Regions from separate parts of the Homo sapiens genome. Here region 1 is linked to region 2. The links come from fine-mapping of genetic effects on gene expression. A gene starts in region 2. The other region holds a variant in brackets. All regions are shown on one strand. Distances are from middle to middle.

Region 1 (5,393 bases), 100 kb after region 2:
CCCCCAGAGTGAAGCTTTTTTAATTCATCTTGATGAATTCTATAGTAACCAAAATTTATATTATAATCTCTTTTAATTAGCTGTGTTTTATCAGTTGTTTTTGTCTTATGACTCATTAGATCGCTGAGTTTTATTCGTTGTGTGTCAACTAAACCCCAATATATATCTTTTGGAACGCCTGATCAAGAAAAGAAAGCATATTAAAGGCAAAAACGATTCGTTGAACACACATTATCATACTCTATACACTAAAATGCCTCTGGGACACTTGAGGAATTCATACTTCTTGCTTAATCCTTGATACATGGTTTGGAAGTTATAAACCAAAATAAATATTTGCTCGGGGATAGAGAAAGGAGCAGAGTCTTTGACTGTTGCTCAAGGGAGTTAAAAAATTAGAGACTTAAATGGTCCTAGAAACCACAGCTAGTTTTTCCACTCAATTCTGAACTTGATATTAAAAAGCTAAGCTGGAGACTTCTGAAAAGCACAGTAGAAAATTCTTGAGTTTTGAAGTGCTTAAGAGACAGAGACCTACCCTGTGCCATGGGTGTGTGTGTGTGTGTGTGTGTGTGTGTGTGTGTGTGTGTGTGTAGGTGGATTGGCTTAAGAGAATCAGCTGTGTGAGTTCAAAGCCCTGAAATGAGTGGCATGTTGACACCGATGACCTATAGCTGCTTTTTAGTTGGCTACACTTGCTATTTGGTCTCAACCAGGTGTGTAGAATCCAGGTATATAGAACTCATATTTTGTGGGGCTGTAGTGACAAAATTGAAATTTTGAGGGGATTTAAACACATACTTGACCTTTTATTTGCCAAATTCTAAAGGTGTGAATGGTGAAAGGTAAGTAGAAAATATCTGGAAAGTGAAGCTATCACTTGGTAATGAAGTGACAAAGACCCATCATACTCTCAATTGAAAGCCATGGAGAGTTAGGTCTTACAATTAGAGGCAAACCAGATGTAGACCAGGTCATCTCAAACCCACAATACAGCCTCTACCCCTTTGAATTTTTTATTGAATTATGTACTTTTACTCTATCTGCGCAGCAGAGCCAAGGAGTCAATCCTCTCATTATCTGGAACTTCTATAAACCAGCATTCAATAAAAAACTAAGTAGATGAAGAGACAGGAGTATTTGATCAATAACAAAGGGGAAAGAAACAATAAAAAGCAGAAGCACAGCTGATCCAGATATTGGAGTTAGCAGACAAGAACATCTTGATTGTTATGCTTAGGAACATAGAGAAAATAAGGAACAAAAGAGGTAAGAGGGTGGAGAATTACCCTAGAAAGTTTGTGTGTGTGTGTGTGTGTGTGTGTGTACATGTATGTATATGGATCAAGTAAACTTTGTGGAGCCATCAGAGAAATATATATCTGACAATAAGAACTCAATGAATAGGCTTATAACATATCGGACTCAGTAGATGATAGCAATAATGAACTGGAAGGCTAGTTAATAGAAAATGTCCAAATTGAAGCACAAGTCAGAAAAGAGGATAAAACACATTTGGGATCTGGTCAAAAGATCTGTCTTATATACAATTTGAATTCCAGAAAAAGAAGAGAGAGAAAATCTCTAACAGTATCTAAAAAAAAATTCTCATGAAGATTTCAGAACATCATTACACAAGCTTTGTTAACTTTTAAGATTATATTCAAAGAAAACCACACCTGTATGCACAATGGCATAACATCTTAAATTGCTGACTGTGCTAGCCTACAATTCTATATTCAGTGAAAATATCTTTTAAAAATTAAGATGAAATAAAAATAGTTTAGGCAAACAGATATTGAGAGAATTTATCACTAGCAGGCTCTCACTAAAAGAAGGTACTGCAAGGGAGCTCCCTTTGGCAGAAGGAAAATGATTCTAAAAGAAAATATGGAGGAGAGCATACACTATAGCTTAGTATTGATTATCCGAAACAGTAGTCATAATTTTCTGTGAAAGTTTAAGTTTAGTGAAGTTTAAGTTAAATATATGGAATTGAAATGTAAGACAATAAAAACACAAAAGCTAGGGGGTCTTACATGGAGTTAAAATATTCTGTTGTTCTAGGATTATTATGAAGTGTAATGTTCTGGTTAGGTTATAATCAAGGATACAAGTTATAATCTCCAGTGTAACAACTGAAATAACAGGGAATGAATGCATATCTAGCAAGTTAATAAGAGAACTATAAATTAATAAAAATATTTGGTTAATCCAAAATAAATAAGTATGAAAAATGGATGGGTCAATAGATAACAGATGATAAGATGATATAAACCCAAATATAGAAGTAATTAAATTAAATACAAAAAGATTAAATAAACCTAGTAAAAGTCTAAGATCCTCAGACTTCATGAAAAACAACTACCACCACCATGTGTAGCTTAAAAAAGGCATACTTTAAATATAAGGACATCAAAATGTTGAAAATGAAAGGATGGAAAAAGAAAGCTGGTGTAGATACACTAATTTCAAATAAAGCATTAAGGCAAAAAGGACTACTAGAAGTGAAAAGGAGCATTTCAT[T/A]ATGCCAAAGGGACCAGTCCACCTTAAATATATCATAATCCTAAGTCTATTTCATCCTTAATAACATAGTTTGAAAATAAATAAAGCCATAAACTAAACAAAGAAAACACAGAACTCAGAAGAGGTATGAACATATTCACAGTTACAGCAGGAGACTTTAAGACATCCCTCTTAAATCTTGCTTAATCAAGCAGACAAAATCTCGTGAAGTGTATAGAAGATCTGAACAAAGCAATTTGTAAAGTTGTCCTAATTGTGCACCAAACTATCAATAGAATATGTAGCATTTGTCAAAATTGGCCAAATGCTGGGGCATAAATATAACCTTAAAAAATTCCAAAAGCTTGGAGTCATTGAGATTATGTTCTCTAACAATAGTGGAATTCAGTTAGAAATCAAGTGAAAGAAAAGGACAACTAGAAAAGCCTCGACTTCCTACAAATTAAGTACCTTACTCTAAATAACCGTGGATTACAGAAGAAACTCAAAAATTAGAAAAGAAACTGGACTGAATGTTAATGAAGATAGAATATATCAAAAGTTTCAAGAACCAGCTTAAGCCATGCTCAGAGGAAACTTTATAGCTGTAAATATATAAATTTAGGAAATAGGAATAAGAATTAAAAAAATTAATGATCTGAATTTCCATCTCCAGAAAGAAAATCAAACCTAGAGAAAGTAGAAGAAATGAAGTAATTAAGAGCAGAAATTACTGAAATTGAATCTGTAGAGAAATTTAATAAAGTAAAATTTAGATCTTTGAAGAGATTAATGTAATTGATAAACTTTTAACTAATGGAAAAAATAGGGTAGAAACAAAGGACAAATATTTGTTTGTATGATGAAGAGCCCACAGACAATGGTAAGACAAAGAGGATGTTATGAATAATTTTACAAATAAGTTTTGAGTAAAGTTGACAATTTTCTGGAAAAATATAAGTCATTCAACATTGATACAAGAGGAATTAGAAAATCTGAATAGTCATGATCTATTAAAAAATTAAATTTAATGTTATTAACTCTCATACAGAGAAAACCCCAGGCCTAAATGGCTTTATTGGTGAATTCTCTAAAATGTAGTCCTTATGCAAACCCTTACGGAGAGTGGAATCAAAGAGAAAACTTTCAAATTCTTTTTATAAGGCCAGCATAATCTTAATATCAAACGTATTTAGGACAGTATAAGAAAGGAAAATTATAGACAGCTTTTAAAATAAATGTAGAGCACATAATGTTCATAAATATTCACAAAGCAGTTGATACAATTCCTCATGTTAACAGAAAACAGGAAGAAAAACCTGACTACCTTGGTAGTGCAAGAGAAGTATTTATTAAAATTCAATATTTATTCATGATTAAAATTTCATAGCAACCTAGAAATGGAAGATAATTATCTTACTCTGGTGAAGATTAGTTGCAAAATGCCTGCAGCAAAAATTATAATTCCTAGTGAAATTTTGACAGCTTTCCTCTTGATATTAGGACTGTCTAGGGAAAAATTTCGTGATACGTATGTCAGAACTTTACACAGAAAATCACAGAATATTATTTAGGAAAATTAAAGGCCCATAAACTGAAGCATATAGCATGTTAGTGGATTGTAAGGCCAAGAAGAGCCAGAGCAATCTTGAAGAAGAACAAAACTGGAGGACTTAATTATCAAATGTTGAGATGTGTTATTAGTGCTGTAGTAATTATAACATTATATAGGTATAAAAATACACAAATAGACCAATGGAATAAAATAAGAGTCTAGAAACAGACCTGCTGGTTATCTGATTCAGGACAAAGGTGACTTTGCAATTTTGAGAGGAAGAGGTAGTTTTCTCAATAGAGGATGTTGATTCATTTGGGTACTATGAAAAATAATTATATTAACTCTTACCACACAAGCATCAGTTACAGCTGAGTTGCAGATCTAATTGTGAAAGGAAAAAATAATGCTCTTGGGAGAAAGCATAGGTGAATATGTTCATGTGATCTTGTGCACTAATAAAACACTAACGTTAAAAAAGGGCTGATAACATTGTGCTTCATTACATTTAAGAAAATTTATTCATCAAAAGGGTGCCAATAAGAGAGTAAACAGGTAATTACAGATTTGGAGAAACTCAAGGAAACTTATATCTGGAAATATAAAGTACTTACACAATCAAAAAGAAAAGACCAATATCCAATAGAAATATGGGTAACAGTCTTGAAAAGGTACACTAAGTGTTGGCAATAATGTGGAGCAATTCAACTCTCATAGACTATTGTTGGTAACATAAATTTGTACAACCATTTTGGAAAATTGTTTGGCAGTATCTACCTGAACCCTATAACCTAGCAATTCCAATCCTGTATGTGTATATGTGAAGAAATATACAAAAAAAAAAAAAAAAAAACCAGAAGCGTTCATAGGAACATTACTTCTAGTAGCCCCACACTGTAAACTGCCGAAGTACTCATCAACTAGAGAATGGATCAATAATAAGTATAATATTGTTCAGCGATGAGAATAAATGAACTAAAAATGTAATGGAATAATGTATATTCATCTCATAAACACAAAGAAGCCAGACTCAAGTAAGTACATACTGAATGATTTATTTTATATAGAGGTAAAAAATAGACAAAACTAATTGATGATGTTAGAAGTCAGGCTAGTGATTATCATGAGAGTGGTTAATAATTGGAAGAGTGTGTAAGGGCTATGAGTTGCTGGTAACAGTTTCTTGTTCTGAGTGCTGATTATTCAGGTTAAATTTTTGAAAACTGAGCCGAACACTCATTTGGTGCACCTTTTTTGTATATATGTTAAACTTGAACAAAATTTTTAAAAAAGAAATAAAAAGAAGCACTATCTTCTGTTTAATTCATTTCCT
Region 2 (5,393 bases):
TTGCGTTTAAGACTTTCAATCAGTATATTCTAGACACAAGTCCTTATCATTCTGATTGCTGGGTCTCCTCAAGTTCCCTGGATCTTGTTGCCATAGCTGCATCTCTCTTGGCCACATGGGAGAAGCATCCTGCTGTTTCAAATGCCATGACATGCTGGGTAGCCTGAGGATTTAGTGATACTTTTCTAGGTTCATCTACAAAGGAGGATACCTACAGGTCTTTCTAATCTATAGCTGTACCTCCATGGAAGGTGAGACAAACCATCTCTTATACTGGTATGTGATTTACAATCTTTTCTTTTAGCCCTAAGCTTTGTTTCCTAACTCATTCAGGTTTTTGAGGTTTAATACTCAGAAACCAGTCTGTAGAATTCAAACTTTTCTCTCAAATTATTGTCTCTGCTATCAAGTTTAAAATCTATTTTAAAATTCAAAAGCAATAATTTGATTTCTTTTTTTTCTGCCTCCATGATACCTCTGTTTGAGTTTGAAAGGAGGCAGATGCCAGGATGTAATACTGCAAAACTATCATCTTGCTATATAAAATGGTCGTCTAAAAGCAAGCTGAGACTAAACAGGTACAAGTTGCACAGGTAGTGAAGCTCAGTGAGAGCAAGTGATGCAAGAGTCATTCTGAAGGGTGAAGAGCAACTTTGCTTTGTATTCCAACTCCATAGTCATGGGTTCTGCAATTGGAAATAGCTTAAACAAAGAGGGGAATACATTTTAAGGATACGGTGATGTCTCATAGAACCCCAGGACCAGAAAGCAGTTAGGCCTTGGGAATAAATGGAATCAGGAACTCAAATATAATCACACTCTTCACCTTTTCTGGTTCACGAAATTACTGAAAACTCCCATTTTTTGCAGTTCCTAGTGGCATTTAAAGATAATCTGATCTTTCTTTCTAAACTACACTTCCAAAATTCCCAGAAAAGGACAGTTTCCCAAATTGAGTAAATGTGGCCAGGGCAAGGGGAATGGAGGAAAGTCCCACTGTAATAACATAGACATTTTCATGGTTACCAGGCAAATGGTGTGGTAGAGATGGGGAAAATTTAAAAAATCAGTTTGCAAAACAGGTGAATCTGGCAGGTGCTCTGTTTGTTTTTCCTGGCTGCATGTAGTTGAAAGTTCAAACCTCTTAGACCTTCAAAATCTCCCTTTAATCTGTTTTTCCTACTTTTTCTGTTAACCCTGTATCATTCCCTACACCCTGAATCTAGAAGCACCAAGCTATTTTCTCTTCCTGGAATGCACTGTGCTCTTCATGCCTATCAGCCTTTATACAGGTTTCTTCTTAGTTTGGAATGCCATTTTCTCCCTAGTCTGCCTGGTAACTTCTAGTCATCTTTTAGGTCTAGCTCAGAGTTATATCTGGAAACACTTGACTTTCAAATAAGAGTTTATTGCTCTTTTTGTGTTTCACTTTGTTTGCACTATTCTAGGACTCCTATCACATTGGATTGTAGTTGCCTAATCTGTCTCTTTTCTCTACCACCTTGGACATTTTAGAAGTAAAACTATGCCTTGATCTTATTTGTCTCAATGGTGGCTTGTCATTGGGTTGTACGTAGCAGAGGTTCAATAAAATTCTCATCAGTTATTATTTTTCTCTTTTTCTCCCCGACCTAAATAATCTCAGTACCCCCAGCTCCCTAAACTATCAACAAATAGAAAAAAAGCTCTATTCATTTTTATCCTTGTTCTTTACTCTCCTTAGTTTAAACCCAAATTTGACTATGTAAATGTAATTTCATTTTGTTACCCCTTCCTTCATTAAAACAAAAATACCCTTCATGCACATGCAAAACACTCTACCCCACACTATTAAAACAGCAGAAATGAACACTAACAAAAGCCAAGATAAAAAATTTCCCCAATGTTGAATTTTTGGACTTAGTGTGGGGGTAGGAAAAATGGAGACATAATTCTGGTTCTCCCTTTGGCAGTTTTCAATTGCTGTTTCTTAATCTCAGTCAGAAAACACATTTCTCTGCCTCTCCTTTTGCCCCATTTCTACCCTCTCCTCCCTTGCCCCTGTGCAAAACCAAAGATGGGTTAAGAGGCAAGGCATAATGGAAGAGGAATGTTCTTTTCCTCCACTCCCACTTTCTTCTTCAAATTCTGTTTTGGGACCATCCTTCCCCACCCTCCCATTTTCATCTGATGGACACACTGTCTCTGTTGTCTCTTGTCATATTTGATTTTATGATATTTCATGTTTTATGTGCTTTTTTTTTTTTTTAGTAAATTCATGGACAGAGAATGTATCCTGGTAAACACTTAGATTAAAACAAATTTACATAGTTGATTACTATAAATGAAAATTAGTGACTCAAATTCTCCAGGTTTCTAAGCTACTTAGACTAAGCCAATCAGGTAATTTTTGCTACTTCTGGGCAAAATGTATCTGAATTCCTATTCAGTGGATTTGCAGGATGAAATCTAAGTTTACCTCTTTCATCTCTCATTTAAATGTGGAAAAACGAAATCAATAAAAATCTATATATGCTTATTAAGCATTTTAAGGAGGGTGTGAATAAGGAGTGAAAGCTTTGAGCAGTGACTACAGCAGTTTTTCGAAAGTCAAAACAATAACCAATGCCAATCAGTAGCTCTCTTCACCTCTCACACAATAATAGAGACAGGACAGGATAAAAAAGGGTTACATTTAAAAAAAAGTATGGATGTTAAACCATTGGAAATGGCACTGTAAATGACACCGGAAAAGATCGCCTCCAGGCACTGTGTGGAACTTTGCAAACTCGGGTCCTCACCCGAGGACCGCACGGCCGACCTCGGGGAGGCTCCACCCCAGAAACTATTTCATTGGCGCCACCTCTAGCCCACACTTCCCCTCTTCCGCATGCGCACAAGGAGCAGAAGCCGACCAGCTCGTCACGTCGCCTTCCCCGCCCCTAAATTTCCAGTTCCGATTGGTCTGTTTCATGGGACCGCCCCTCTGGCCCGACCAATGTGGAAGCCTCCTCGGGTGCTCCGCCCTCCCCGCAGGCGGCGTGCGGCTGCATAGCCTGAGAATCCCGGTGGTGAGCGGGGATGGCGGTTGTAGCGGCGGCTGCCGGCTGGCTACTCAGGCTCAGGGCGGCAGGGGCTGAGGGGCACTGGCGTCGGCTTCCTGGCGCGGGGCTGGCGCGGGGCTTTTTGCACCCCGCCGCGACTGTCGAGGATGCGGCCCAGAGGCGGCAGGTGGCTCATTTTACTTTCCAGCCAGATCCGGAGCCCCGGGAGTACGGTGAGCCCTGGGACTGCCCACTCGGTCCCGCTGCAGCCCGGACTCCCAGGCTCGCAGGCGCCCGCGAGGGGCAGGGGCCGGCAGGCTGCAATCCTTGCATCCCAGCTTATTAACTTCCTGACTCTCTGGAACCTCCTTGCCTCAGGGTCTAACTGTGGTTCACTTCTTGCTCTATTTTTGTGACTGTTCAGCCCTCGAGACGCAGTCCCCCCTCCCCCGCAACTTTGAGATGGGTGAGAGGGCATACTGCCACCTGGAAGAGCCTGAGGGTGGAGGGGTGGTGCCCAGGGAACGCCTCCCTTTTCTCTGTCCTCCGTCCTTGCTTTCTCAACCCAGGCCTTAGGTGTTGTTCCAGCCTGGCCAGGACTGGGCCACTAGCTTAGGTAGAGGCATTTAAAAGATATATATATATGTTTATATATATATATTTTAAATGTATATTATATATATTATATATAAAATATATATATGTATATAAAATCAATTCAGTTACTCAGTCCCTTGGTTTCTTCTTACATACAGAAATTGTGTGTATGTGTGTGTGTGTGTGTGTGTGTATATATCCACACACATATATATATGTGTGGATATATATACGCGCATATATATGCATATATATGTGCGCATATATATATATATGCATATATATATATGCACACATATATATGCATATATATATGCATATATGTATATATGTCCCTTGGTTTCTTCTTACCTACAGAATTCTGAGTAATTGAACTGATTTTCCCAAGGTCACAGAACAGGTCCTTCCTAGAGATGTGAAAGAATTCAGACTTTCTACTTGAGCTTAGTACTGAGCTTGTCCTGGGCTATGCTGCCACTTAGCCAAGGAGGTGAAGGGGATGAGAGGAGGAAGCCATAGGAAGGGCATGTAGCAAACTCCTCATAGTATGACTGTTGCATGATTTTTACCATTTCTGCAAGTTTCATGTAATGTCTCTCATCAGAATATCAGATCCAGTGTCTCTCTTCAGAATATCAGGAAACTGTAGGGAAACATGTATTGCTTCCTTGTCTAATAACTTCTCATGTGCATGCTAGAGCTGACATTTTTGGAAGTGTGTCTTGTGGATAAGAATGAACAGTTATTGAGTGCTTACCAGGGTCAGGTGCTGTGTGTATGTTTCATCATCTCATTTAAGGGTTAGGACAACCTTAAAAGGTTAGTAAAGTTTTTATTCCCATTTTGCAGTTAGGTTAATGGAGTCTTGAGACAGTTTGACCAAGATTACACAGGTAAGTTAGTGGTAGCTCCAAAGCTCCAGCTTTGGAATCTAATTGATCAGATTCCAGAGCTTCCATTCTAAACAATGTACTAAGATGCGTGTAGATATAATTTACTTGGAGGGCGTCCCAGTATTGTGAAACAGTAGGTACCATAAAGGTTAATAGTAGGTGTTTTTTTTTTTTTTTCCACCACCAAGATGAGCCCTCAATTCTGTCTTCAAAGCAAATTCTGTCTTCAAAGCAAAGAAATTTTGGTCTAATACTTGAGAAATAGTCCAACTTTCCATAGTTGTAAACTTACTAAAATCTAAGTAAAATGATATCATGTTATCATGATATATATCATGATATATATAAACTTGTTCTTATTTTAAAAATAATACAAACATATTAACAGATAATTTGGATAATGGATAAAAAGTAAAAAAAAAAAAAAAAAATCTGCCGGGCGCAGTGGCTCACGTCTGTAATCCCAGCACTTTGGGAGGCGGAGGCAGGCGGATCACCAGGTCAAGAGATCGAGACCATCCTGGCCAACATGGTGAAACCCGGTCTCTACCAAAAATACAAAAATTAGCTGGGCGTGGCAGCGCATGCCTGTAGTCCCAGCTACTCGGGAGGCTGAGGGAGGAGAATCGCTTGAACCTGGGAGGCAGAGGTTGCAGTGAGCTGATATCGTGCCACTGCACTCCAGCCTGGTGACAGAGCAAGACTCTGTCTCAAAAAAACCCCAAAAAACCAAAAAACAAAAATCACCACCCACTGCAGTAAATATTGCTAACATTTTGGGTGTATCCTTACAGGTATTTCCTTTTAGTTTCGTATTTTCCATACTTTTAGTTTTAATACAAATACAACTTATTTAGTCGGAAGAATTATCCTACAATTC

The links. PIP is the estimated chance that this variant, and not a neighbour inherited with it, causes the effect. A credible set is the group of variants that fine-mapping cannot tell apart.
Region 1: its variant is the best candidate, but not a certain one, in a credible set for the expression of BCKDHB in whole blood (INTERVAL, PIP 0.52).

The regions. Positions count from the first base shown.
Region 1 is chr6:80,205,242-80,210,634 of GRCh38, forward strand. All of the region lies in intron 8 of BCKDHB (branched chain keto acid dehydrogenase E1 subunit beta), which reads left to right. Among named protein-coding and RNA genes, the nearest start is that of BCKDHB, 100 kb to the left of the region's middle. The variant T/A (reference allele first, on the strand shown) is at 2,527.
Region 2 is chr6:80,103,634-80,109,026 of GRCh38, forward strand. BCKDHB (branched chain keto acid dehydrogenase E1 subunit beta) reads left to right here and starts at 3,038. Exons shown (of 10, transcript NM_183050.4): 1 at 3,038-3,256. The coding sequence starts at 3,061. RefSeq lists enhancers at 2,834-3,334, 3,301-3,380 and silencers at 2,921-3,120, 3,151-3,250.